Linked DNA regions of Homo sapiens: region 2 is linked to region 1. Evidence: fine-mapped expression QTL. A gene starts in region 1. The other region holds a variant in brackets. All regions are shown on one strand. Distances are from middle to middle. Region 1 holds the start of BTG1 (BTG anti-proliferation factor 1). Region 2 has its middle 2.6 kb from the start of CLLU1-AS1.

Region 1 (5,492 bases):
GCTGAGGCAGGAGAATCACTTAAACCTGGGAGTCGGTGGCTGCAGTGAGCCAAGATCGCGCCACTGCACTCCAGCCTGGGTGACTGAGCGAGACTCTATCTCAAAAAAAAAAAAAAAAAATTTCATAAATTACTATCAAATTGCATGATAATAATAAAGTACTTGGGAGAGCCTTGGTAAACTTAGCACAACAACACAGAAAGCACCTTTGTAATTCAAAAGCTGTCCAGAAATACCTGCTTGTTTCCCAGATGGGAAGGGCCTGACTAAACTTCCAGAAAATGTGACTAAACATATATATGTCAGGAATTGAAAACTATTAGCAATGAACATTATGTACCATCTAAGGCTTACGTTTAAGACTAATGTTTATTTCCAGTTTTTTTCTGAGTACTCTGTAGATTCCCAAGTTAAAAATTACTGTAGTTTCTCAAATCAGTTTGTCTCCTAATGGGATGATTTAAGGTGGGAAACACACATATATAATTTGAAAAACTCAGTGCGGGAAGTAACTCTCCCTGAGTCTATGGGTTAAACTTTCTGTTAACCCTGTTCAACTGGTTTTATAAGGCTTTCAGAAGGGGTCCTGCTGCTGCTAGTGCAGGCAGTTAAAAATAGTATGGAGAACAAGGGCTTGGGGGAAGTCTGAGTCCAATCCTAGCATTTTGTTGATTTAATATTTCTGTTTTTTAGATGAGACAATTTAAGCACATGACCGAGAGGCCAAGTTGGAGACCAGGTTTAGAAGAGAAAAACTTTCACTTGACTCCTAATTTGTACTCAGTGACACATTAACGACAATGTAAGTGAAAGCAGGGAACTAAGGGTGGGTCAGGTTAGGTGGGAGACCAGGAGTTGTTATTCTAGTGTTATGGTAATTTCATGAATTTACTTTTGCTTCTCGATCTTCTTTTTGAGTAGTAAAAGAGGTTTCATGCCTCCAGTGAAATTACTATTTTTAAGCAGAGTTCTATCTGAAAAGTTCTATAAGAAAAAAAAAAACCACTCTTTAATTTTTTCACATGTAACTACTTAGTTATGTGTACTAATGAAAAAATAATCTAGAAGTTATTTTTTCAAATCGAGTTTTACATATTTTTTAAACAATAAAACGTTTTCTCCTGTTTTATAATGTCATTATTTTTGCTTCATTTCTATATCCTTTAGCTCAGTATTAAAAAGAAAAAAAAAACACTCAAAGTGGTGTGTTTTGCAATATTGATGATCAACTAAGGTCGGGATATTTATTTCCATCTGGTAGAGTTCAACTTCTGCCTCCTGTTTGCTTTCTCCATCTGCCTGCCTCCCTTCATCTTTCTTTTTTTCTTTTCCCCCTTCTCCTTAATGGAGTTGGGGTTAACCCTGTCTTAGGCCTAATCGTTTTAGCAGGCTCCCGCCTTCCTGTTACACTGGTTTTTAAGGTTGTTTTTTTTTTTTTTTGGTAGGGTTTCAAATAAACTTGAATGTCTACACTTAATACTTTCACAAGCTTCAAATTCTTTTTATTTTATTTTTATAAAGAGCAGGACTCAGGCTAGGACGGCATTTGGACTAGGTAAAAAAGAAAATCTTCAGTTTTGTGCACACAAGTTTTAAAATACATTGTACAGATTTTTTTTTTTTGGATACACACCACTCTTTACAGGATCCGCGTTATATCTGCTTTCAGTAACTGGCTCTCCTGTCCGCATCCAGTAAGGTTTCCACTCTTCTCTCCGTTGACTGCTGAAGTTACTGAAACAGCAACCACAAATGGCCTTACTAACCTACTTATTTTGCAATTAAACTTTTAAAAGATATCCCCCTACTCCTCCCCTAGGGTGGAACAGAAATGGCTCCGCGGCGTTGGCAGCTCGTCTGCGAGGGGACCCTGGCTCCCCGAGGCTGCAGTCCTTTTTCTTGGACAGAACGCCCCGCAGGACCGTTCCCTCCACTTTCCCCCGCACTAAGGCAGCGCACCGCCAGCACACACAGCGCTGGCGCCCGCATCGCGCCGCACCACACGCGTCTCCGGCTTGAGGAGCCAGTCACCGAGACCCGGAGCGGGAACGAGATGTAAACACGGAGTGGGGACATGCAGCCCGATCTGAGAAGGCGGCGTGAAGAGTAGACACAGCCTGCGCCAGGCGGTTCTTATTTACCCAGCACTTACACTCCAGGGCAAGCGGGCCCAGGCAGCGCACTCTTGGAGAAGGATGCACTGGCGCAGAGCCTGGACCTGCTGAAGCGGGAAGGAGGAGCTAGGGCTGGGGGCGGAGCTTTCACACGCGCACCCTCTGTTCCCTCCCTCCCTCCCTCGACACAAGCAACTGGGTCTCCAGCCGCCACTCCGGGTTTATTTGTTTACAAGCGGATTACGTCAGCTCCTCCCTCTCTTCCCTATCTCTGGACCCGCCTCCTGAACTCTTTTCCCGCCCCTTTCGGCTCCGAACCGGCTTGCGTCACAATGGTGCGATATTCGGATTGGCTGGAGTCGGCCATCACGCTCCAGCTACGCCACTTCCTTTTCGTGGCACTATAAAGGGTGCTGCACGGCGCTTGCATCTCTTCGCCTCTCGGAGCTGGAAATGCAGCTATTGAGATCTTCGAATGCTGCGGAGCTGGAGGCGGAGGCAGCTGGGGAGGTCCGAGCGATGTGACCAGGCCGCCATCGCTCGTCTCTTCCTCTCTCCTGCCGCCTCCTGTCTCGAAAATAACTTTTTTAGTCTAAAGAAAGAAAGACAAAAGTAGTCGTCCGCCCCTCACGCCCTCTCTTCCTCTCAGCCTTCCGCCCGGTGAGGAAGCCCGGGGTGGCTGCTCCGCCGTCGGGGCCGCGCCGCCGAGCCCCAGCCGCCCCGGGCCGCCCCCGCACGCCGCCCCCATGCATCCCTTCTACACCCGGGCCGCCACCATGATAGGCGAGATCGCCGCCGCCGTGTCCTTCATCTCCAAGTTTCTCCGCACCAAGGGGCTCACGAGCGAGCGACAGCTGCAGACCTTCAGCCAGAGCCTGCAGGAGCTGCTGGCAGGTGAGCAGGGCGAGGGCGTCGGAGGGACGCGGGCCCCACATCCCTGGGTCAGAGTCCGGCCGTCGGGGCTGCGGGAACCTCGGCAGCGCCCCGGGGCCGGTCGCGCTTGGGCCCCGCCGCGGGACCGGTGTGGTTGCGCTGGGTGGCCGCTAACAGCGGTTCCCCGCGAGGCTTTAGGGGCTGGACGGAGGGCGCCCCCTTCCCCCCAGCTGGCAAAACGGAGAGGAGAAGACAACACGCACAACAAAGAAACTTAAGCCCACCGAGGCGGGAGCTGCGGTCCGAGGACCGTCGGCGGATTTGGGGACAAAGGAGCCGTGGGGCTGGGGTGGGTTCGACGTCCCCTTTCCTCAGCCCCCTCCAACCGTTGCGTGGTCGGCGGCCCAGCCCCGGGGTGGGAAGCTGCGCCGCTGCCCCGGAGCCAGCTCAGAACGGACGTGCCGTCTCCCCGCGCCTCCTGCCCCTGCCCATTAATCATCGGATTTGTCACCGGCACAATTAACAGCCCTGCCCAGAGCGTGGTTTAGGGTTGCTTGTTTTTCTTCCCTTCGGGGTTAACAGTCCGGTGGCGCTTCTCATCTCCAAAGCCATCAACTCCATTGTGTGCATCTGGGGTGGGGTGGAGAAAGTAAACAGTTTCTCGCCTGGCCATAGGTGCCAGTGGCTTCCCGACTGGCCGAGGCTGCGCGCCTGATTCCTGTTTTGGCGGCTCAACCGGTTGGTTCCTGGAGATTGTTTTGTCCGGTACTACTGTGTTATTTCTAAAACCCTGCCCGCTTTTTCCATCCCCGCACATGCACAACAACGGATGCAATCCTGGACATTTTAAAAAGTTGATAGTTTTCATTTTCGCTCCTCAAAGGAGCCTGGGGTAGGAGGAATCCGCAGTGGGAGCTAACGATCCTAAGCGTTGTTTCTCTGTTCTTCTTTTCTTCTATAGAACATTATAAACATCACTGGTTCCCAGAAAAGCCATGCAAGGGATCGGGTTACCGTTGTATTCGCATCAACCATAAAATGGATCCTCTGATTGGACAGGCAGCACAGCGGATTGGACTGAGCAGTCAGGAGCTGTTCAGGCTTCTCCCAAGTGAACTCACACTCTGGGTTGACCCCTATGAAGTGTCCTACAGAATTGGAGAGGATGGCTCCATCTGTGTGCTGTATGAAGCCTCACCAGCAGGAGGTAGCACTCAAAACAGCACCAACGTGCAAATGGTAGACAGCCGAATCAGCTGTAAGGAGGAACTTCTCTTGGGCAGAACGAGCCCTTCCAAAAACTACAATATGATGACTGTATCAGGTTAAGATATAGTCTGTGGATGGATCATCTGATGATGATGGATAAATTTGATTTTTGCTTTGGGTGGGCTCCTCTTGGGGATGGATTATGGAATTTAAACCATGTCACAGCTGTGAAGATCTGGCACAAGATAGAATGGTAAAAAAAAAAAAAATTTTAAGTGACAGTGCCATAGTTTGGACAGTACCTTTCAATGATTAATTTTAATAGCCTGTGAGTCCAAGTAAATGATCACTTTATTTGCTAGGGAGGGAAGTCCTAGGGTGGTTTCAGTTTCTCCCAGACATACCTAAATTTTTACATCAATCCTTTTAAAGAAAATCTGTATTTCAAAGAATCTTTCTCTGCAGTAAATCTCGCAGGGGAATTTGCACTATTACACTTGAAAGTTGTTATTGTTAACCTTTTCGGCAGCTTTTAATAGGAAAGTTAAACGTTTTAAACATGGTAGTACTGGAAATTTTACAAGACTTTTACCTAGCACTTAAATATGTATAAATGTACATAAAGACAAACTAGTAAGCATGACCTGGGGAAATGGTCAGACCTTGTATTGTGTTTTTGGCCTTGAAAGTAGCAAGTGACCAGAATCTGCCATGGCAACAGGCTTTAAAAAAGACCCTTAAAAAGACACTGTCTCAACTGTGGTGTTAGCACCAGCCAGCTCTCTGTACATTTGCTAGCTTGTAGTTTTCTAAGACTGAGTAAACTTCTTATTTTTAGAAAGTGGAGGTCTGGTTTGTAACTTTCCTTGTACTTAATTGGGTAAAAGTCTTTTCCACAAACCACCATCTATTTTGTGAACTTTGTTAGTCATCTTTTATTTGGTAAATTATGAACTGGTGTAAATTTGTACAGTTCATGTATATTGATTGTGGCAAAGTTGTACAGATTTCTATATTTTGGATGAGAAATTTTTCTTCTCTCTATAATAAATCGTTTCTTATCTTGGCATTTTAATCAATCTCTTGTCATGATTATAGAGGTTTAGCTAAAAGTATTTTTTCTTAGAAGACAGGTTCTATAAACTGAATCTCTGTTGCACACTGGTCATGCTGGAAAAACATTTGATGAGGAATGAAGATGCTCTGTATATACATGTTTAGGTTTTACAGGAAACACAGGAGTAGCATGTTTTAAAAATTTCTAAAGTCAAAACATGGACACATTCACAGGCTAAT
Region 2 (5,223 bases), 290 kb before region 1:
CCTGAAATGACCTGCACTACTGAAGAAAGCCTGCCTGAATGGTGTATTCCACATCTGTAAACTTCAGGGAAAGACCCCTCCAATGAATTTGGAAATAAGTACTAAAATATTTGACACCCCAACGGCAAGAGGATTTTGCATCCTTTTCCCCAGTAGAATCACAGAAGTCAGATGTGATTTGACATGTAATAATAATGGATATCATTGATTGAACACGTTACGCTCTTGGCTGTGTGCTGCATACTTCATAAGTATTATCTCATTTACCCAATGCCCCATGAGATGGTTACCACTTTCTTATTCAGTTGCAGGCATTGAGGCTTATAAAGAGTTGTAACTTAGCCAAGTCACATGGATTGGGAAGATGGGAATCTGGGTATATCTGAATGTAAAGCAAATTACTCAACAATGCATCTTCACTGCAGAGCAAAATAGAATGCAGGGAGTCCTATTCTTTCTTCCTGTTGGGTTTGCACTTCCAAAAAACTTAAAGAACTTGTGAGAATCACTCTTATGAGTACAGAATGTCCACAAGTGGCAATCACAGTTACAGGAAAGGTTGACACCGTCAGTTCTGACTGCACTTACATTAATTAAAAACAGAAATTAAAAGGGAAGAAGGCAAAGGGGAAAGTCCCACTTTCAAATGAGGTCATTTAAACAATAAACTAGTTTCAGTAATTATTTAAAGGGAGCAGAACTGATTAGATATCAGAAATAGAACTAGGCCTTTTGGAGAAGAGGCATTCTCTAGAAGCCACTTCCCTTGCAGAATTTCCCTGAAAGATCACTTATTGTTTAGTTTAATATTTTCAAAAATAAGGAGTAACAAGATCTACTAAATTAGATTTGTTAGAAGATAAAGGATTACCAACAGTGGAATGTTTTCAGTTGATTGCAGCATAAAGAAGCGAAATCTAAGGTCATCATGAAGGAAAAGCATGTAAATACTGCCCTTGGATTTCATAGTGACAATATTTAAGGGGTCCTGGCCTAATTCAAGTTTGTTTCCCACTAAGTGCTAGACTTTCTTATCATAGCTTTCATTCCTTAGCTGAGAAATGATTATGAAAGCAGATATTTTCTTGGGAACTGAGTGAATTTCAAATATATGGTGACTTGATATCAGTGGATTAGGATTGTTGCAGCTGTGTGGGATGAAGGGTAGCCAACACACTCCCTGGAGTCCTGTAGAATGCACTTGTTATGAACCGAATGTTTGTGTCCCTCCGAAGTTTATATGTGGAAACCCTAACCTTCAGTGTGATGGTATTTGGAGTTGGAGCCTTTAAGAAGTAACTAGGTTTAGATGAGGTCATGAGCATGAGGCCTCCATAATGGGATTATTGTCCTTTAAGAAAAGAAAGAGAGACTAGAGAGTTTGCTCTCTCTTCCACATGAGGACAAGGCAAGAAGGTGATCATCTGCATTCCAGAAAAAGCCCTCATCAGAATCCAGCCATGTTGGCTTCTTGATCTTGGACTTCCCATCTTCCAGAACTGTGAGAAGTAAATGTCCATTGTTTAACCCACTCAGTCCATGGTTTTTTATTGTAGCAGCCCAGCTGACTAAGACAGACTGGTCCTAAAGTTTCTACCAGCCCCATTAGTGATGGTCACCAATACTCACATGACTTTCATAAAATGGCAGGAATAAGAGCTCCTGTGCTTGTACTAATTTAGAAACTTTACCATCTCCAACTTCTAACTTAGTCCTAAGGTATACAGATAGTCACTGACTGCTGATGGTTTGACTTTATGATGGGTTTATTGGAGCATTAAATGCATTTTTCAACTAGGTGCAGTAGTTGATGCCTGTAATCTCAGCCCTTTGGCAGAGCAAGGCAGGAGAATTGCTTTTAGCCCAAGAGTTCAAGACCAGCCTAGGCAATATAGTGAGACATTGTCTCTACTAAAAGAAAGATGAAAGGAAAGAAAGAAAAAGAAAGAAAGAAAGAATGAATGAATGAAAGAAAGAAAGAAAGAGAAAGAAAGATTAAAAAATAAAAAATACAATAAAATACATTTCTGACATAATATCTTCTACTTATCATGAGCTTTTCAGAATGAACTCCATCATAAGTGGAGGAACATCTGTATAGGCATTTCAAAAGGTAATGAGAAAACAAATTCATTCACTTTCCAAGTTGGTATTGGGCACCTACCAATGTGCCAGGCATTCAGAGTAAGTGGCATAGAAGGTGGAATAGGACAAAGCCACTGAAACACAAGTAGCCGTGCAATAGGGTCCACACTGCATACCAAAAAGAGGCAGGGCGTAAATATGCAAACATATGAAATGACCACTGACAGCAGAAGGCTTAACAACAAAATGACAACACTAACAACAATGCCATGAACTGTTCCAGACACTGGGTTCCTCACAGTCTAGTGGAGAAGGCCATGGAAAGGGCTGTGAGAGGGCCAAGGGCACTGAGGGAGGCCTTCTTAGTAAGGATGTCATACAGATTGCCACAGAAGGAAGAATCCCTTGGATGCAAAGGCAATGGCACGGGCAAGAGCAGAGTGGTGAAAATGGGTGTGCCCGGGTGTCAGTGAATGGTTTAATTTGGTGTGTGGCCGTTTCCCATATACGTGGGTCTGCTCAGTCAAAGAAAGCTGGCCTTAATCTGAAACAAAAATCAAATAATCGACAGAGTGAGACTCCATCACAAAAAAAAGAAATCAAATAATCATAGAGGAATAGAACAAAGAGAAAAGACGATCCAATCCTCTCATTCCTGTACTATCACTCTTTCCTATAGCTCATTCTATAACCTCAGGAAAGACCATCACTGGAGATGTTATTAGGGCCACTAGGATAAACTTTGGACCAGATAGTTTAGGCCAATCCTAATTTCATACATTCTATCCAATTATCCCCAGTATTCCCATTAATACACTCACACATGTAGGCTGAGAAACACTTAGAAACTTCCCTGTAGAGAAACATCTTCACCACTGGCCTTCCTTTGGGCCATTAGTTAAGATGGCCAGAAGGGGGTAAATACAAATCCATATTCATGTTATCAAAGAGAACAGCACAGCTCCAGAGGAACAAAACCCATGAATAGAAATGCTCCAGCCCAGGCAACATAGTGAGACTGTCTCTAGTAAAAATTAAAAAATTAGTCGGGCATGATAGCACATGCCTGTAGTCCCAGCTACTTGGGAGGCCAAGGTGAGAGGATTGCTTAAACACAGGAGGTTGAGGCTGCAGTGAGCTATGACCTTGCCACTGCACTCCAGCCTGGGCAACCAAGCAAGACCCTGTCTCTAAAGAAAGAGGAAGGAGAAAAAAGAGGAAGAAGAAGAAGAAGGAGGAGGAGGAG[GAGGAGGAGA/A]AAAGGGGAGAGGGGGGAGGGGGAAGGGAGACAGGAAGAAAAAGAATAAGAAAGAAATGCTTTGTTTGGTGTGGTAGAGGTGGAGAAGCATCATCCAGCTCCCTCTTGAAGGACTTGCCACCCAGCTGTGGGTAGTGAGATGAGCAAACCACTTTTGGCTGTCAGCCCCTTCTGATTGACCTCATCTGCAGACAGCCATCTTGCCCAGTCAAACCCTTCCCAGGTCAGCTTGCATCTGACAACTGAACGAGGCAGAAGCAGAAACACCCAGCAATGTTGACCTGACCCAGGTCAGCTCTAACACGTGACACTCATTCCTGAGCTCTGTGCAGGGTGGGCTGAGGTTTTCATTGTGTCACAGCTTGGCTTCTCACTGAGCCCAGTCCCACATCTTCCCCTCTTCCTTTCACAAGAGTCGATTCCTATTAAATGTCTTGTAACTCGAACTCTGTCTGTATGTTTGCTTCAGAAAATCTAAACCTGTGACGGTTAGAAATGGGGGTGGGTCAGAAAAATTTCAGGCAAGGAGCTTGTACCAGGAGAAGAGTGAAGAATCCCATACCCCTAGGAGGCCATGTGGATGTCTGGAGATGGAGAGGTATATCAATAGGGAAGGGGGACCCAATAAGGGTCAGAGGTCTCTGATGTATGTTAGAGAAGAAGGAATTTATTCCTTTCTTCATTCAATGATCACTTGTAGGGAAGACACTAGGGTAGGCGCTGAACTATGGGGATAAAAAGACACATTCCTGATCTCAAGGAGTTACAGACCAGACCCTTACACTCAGAGAAATGCAAACTTCCTAGAACTGGAATGTTTCAGGCAATAAAGCTTTTTGGAGATTAACTTAGATCTAAAGATGGTTTAGATACTTCAAAAATCTAGACCTCTCAAACAAAAGAAAAAGGAAATTCACCCATCTAATCCCATCTAATTCCCAGTAGCACTCTGAGAAGACCTAGAAGAGACAGCAGTTCAAAGACCCTTTTTGTTTTCTATTTACTTCTTAATCCAAGAGCCATACAGCATTGTTTATAAGAATAAATTCTAATAGAAGTCACTATCTTCCAGCTCCTATACACACCATAAAATAATTAATAATAATAGTAATAAAAATGAGGCCCAGAAACACCAATTAAAGTGGCCCAAGAGTAGTGTGGCAAAATTCAGGTGTCTTGACTCTGTATTGTCTCCCTAATCTTAATTGTGACCTTGGCCTCTCTAGTAAAAAAGGTATGAGATGCTCCCAGAAAAGGATAAATAAATGTAAAATTATAATAACTGAATCCCTGGCAGTCTCCTATCAAGGGCAAAAATAAAGAAGATATAAAGAAATATGCTCTGTAACTTCCTAAAAGGCAACACGAATTTAGAGCAAGCTCCCTGACTGCATTTGCAAGACGTGGCATGAAGATATGGATCTCTGTGCAGCAGGACATTTTCTGTCTTCTTCCAATGGAGCACTTTCCACAAGACTAATATTCACAGGACATAGTGTTACATCTTGGAGTTTCCCTAAAGCTGAATAGAGTAACATCTTCAACTTTCCCTATCCTAAATGACATATTCTACTTCCCTAAAAAGATAGATCTATTTATGTATAAAGAACTTGATATCTTCACTTCCCCTGGATCCTCTCCAATATTCTCCCCCAATCCACATCCCCAAGGAGTTGATGTCATTACTTTCTTTAAAAAAGGGTTGCCAACTGTTATGGTTTGGATTTGTGTCCCTGCCCAAATCTCATGTCGAATTGTAATCCCCAGTGTGGGAGGAGGGGCCTGGTGGGAGGTGATTGGATCATGGAGACAGATTTCTTCTTTGCTGTTCTCATGATAGTGAGTAAGTTCTCATGAGATCTGGGTTTCTAAAAAGTGTGTGG

Evidence for each region. PIP is the estimated chance that this variant, and not a neighbour inherited with it, causes the effect. A credible set is the group of variants that fine-mapping cannot tell apart.
Region 2: its variant is the best candidate, but not a certain one, in a credible set for the expression of BTG1 in whole blood (INTERVAL, PIP 0.67).

The regions. Positions count from the first base shown.
Region 1 is chr12:92,142,904-92,148,395 of GRCh38, reverse strand. BTG1 (BTG anti-proliferation factor 1) reads left to right here and starts at 2,550. Exons shown (of 2, transcript NM_001731.3): 1 at 2,550-3,008; 2 at 3,949-5,492. The coding sequence starts at 2,861. The coding sequence ends at 4,316. BTG1-DT (BTG1 divergent transcript) reads right to left here and starts at 2,311. Exons shown (of 3, transcript NR_135036.1): 1 at 2,153-2,311; 2 at 1,634-1,734. RefSeq lists enhancers at 1,899-2,198, 3,033-3,569, 3,529-3,578, 3,839-3,888, 3,909-4,148 and a silencer at 2,789-3,108.
Region 2 is chr12:92,433,028-92,438,250 of GRCh38, reverse strand. No RefSeq gene overlaps it. Among named protein-coding and RNA genes, the nearest start is that of CLLU1-AS1, 2.6 kb to the right of the region's middle. RefSeq lists enhancers at 3,458-3,517, 3,538-3,597, 5,061-5,223. The variant GAGGAGGAGA/A (reference allele first, on the strand shown) is at 3,332.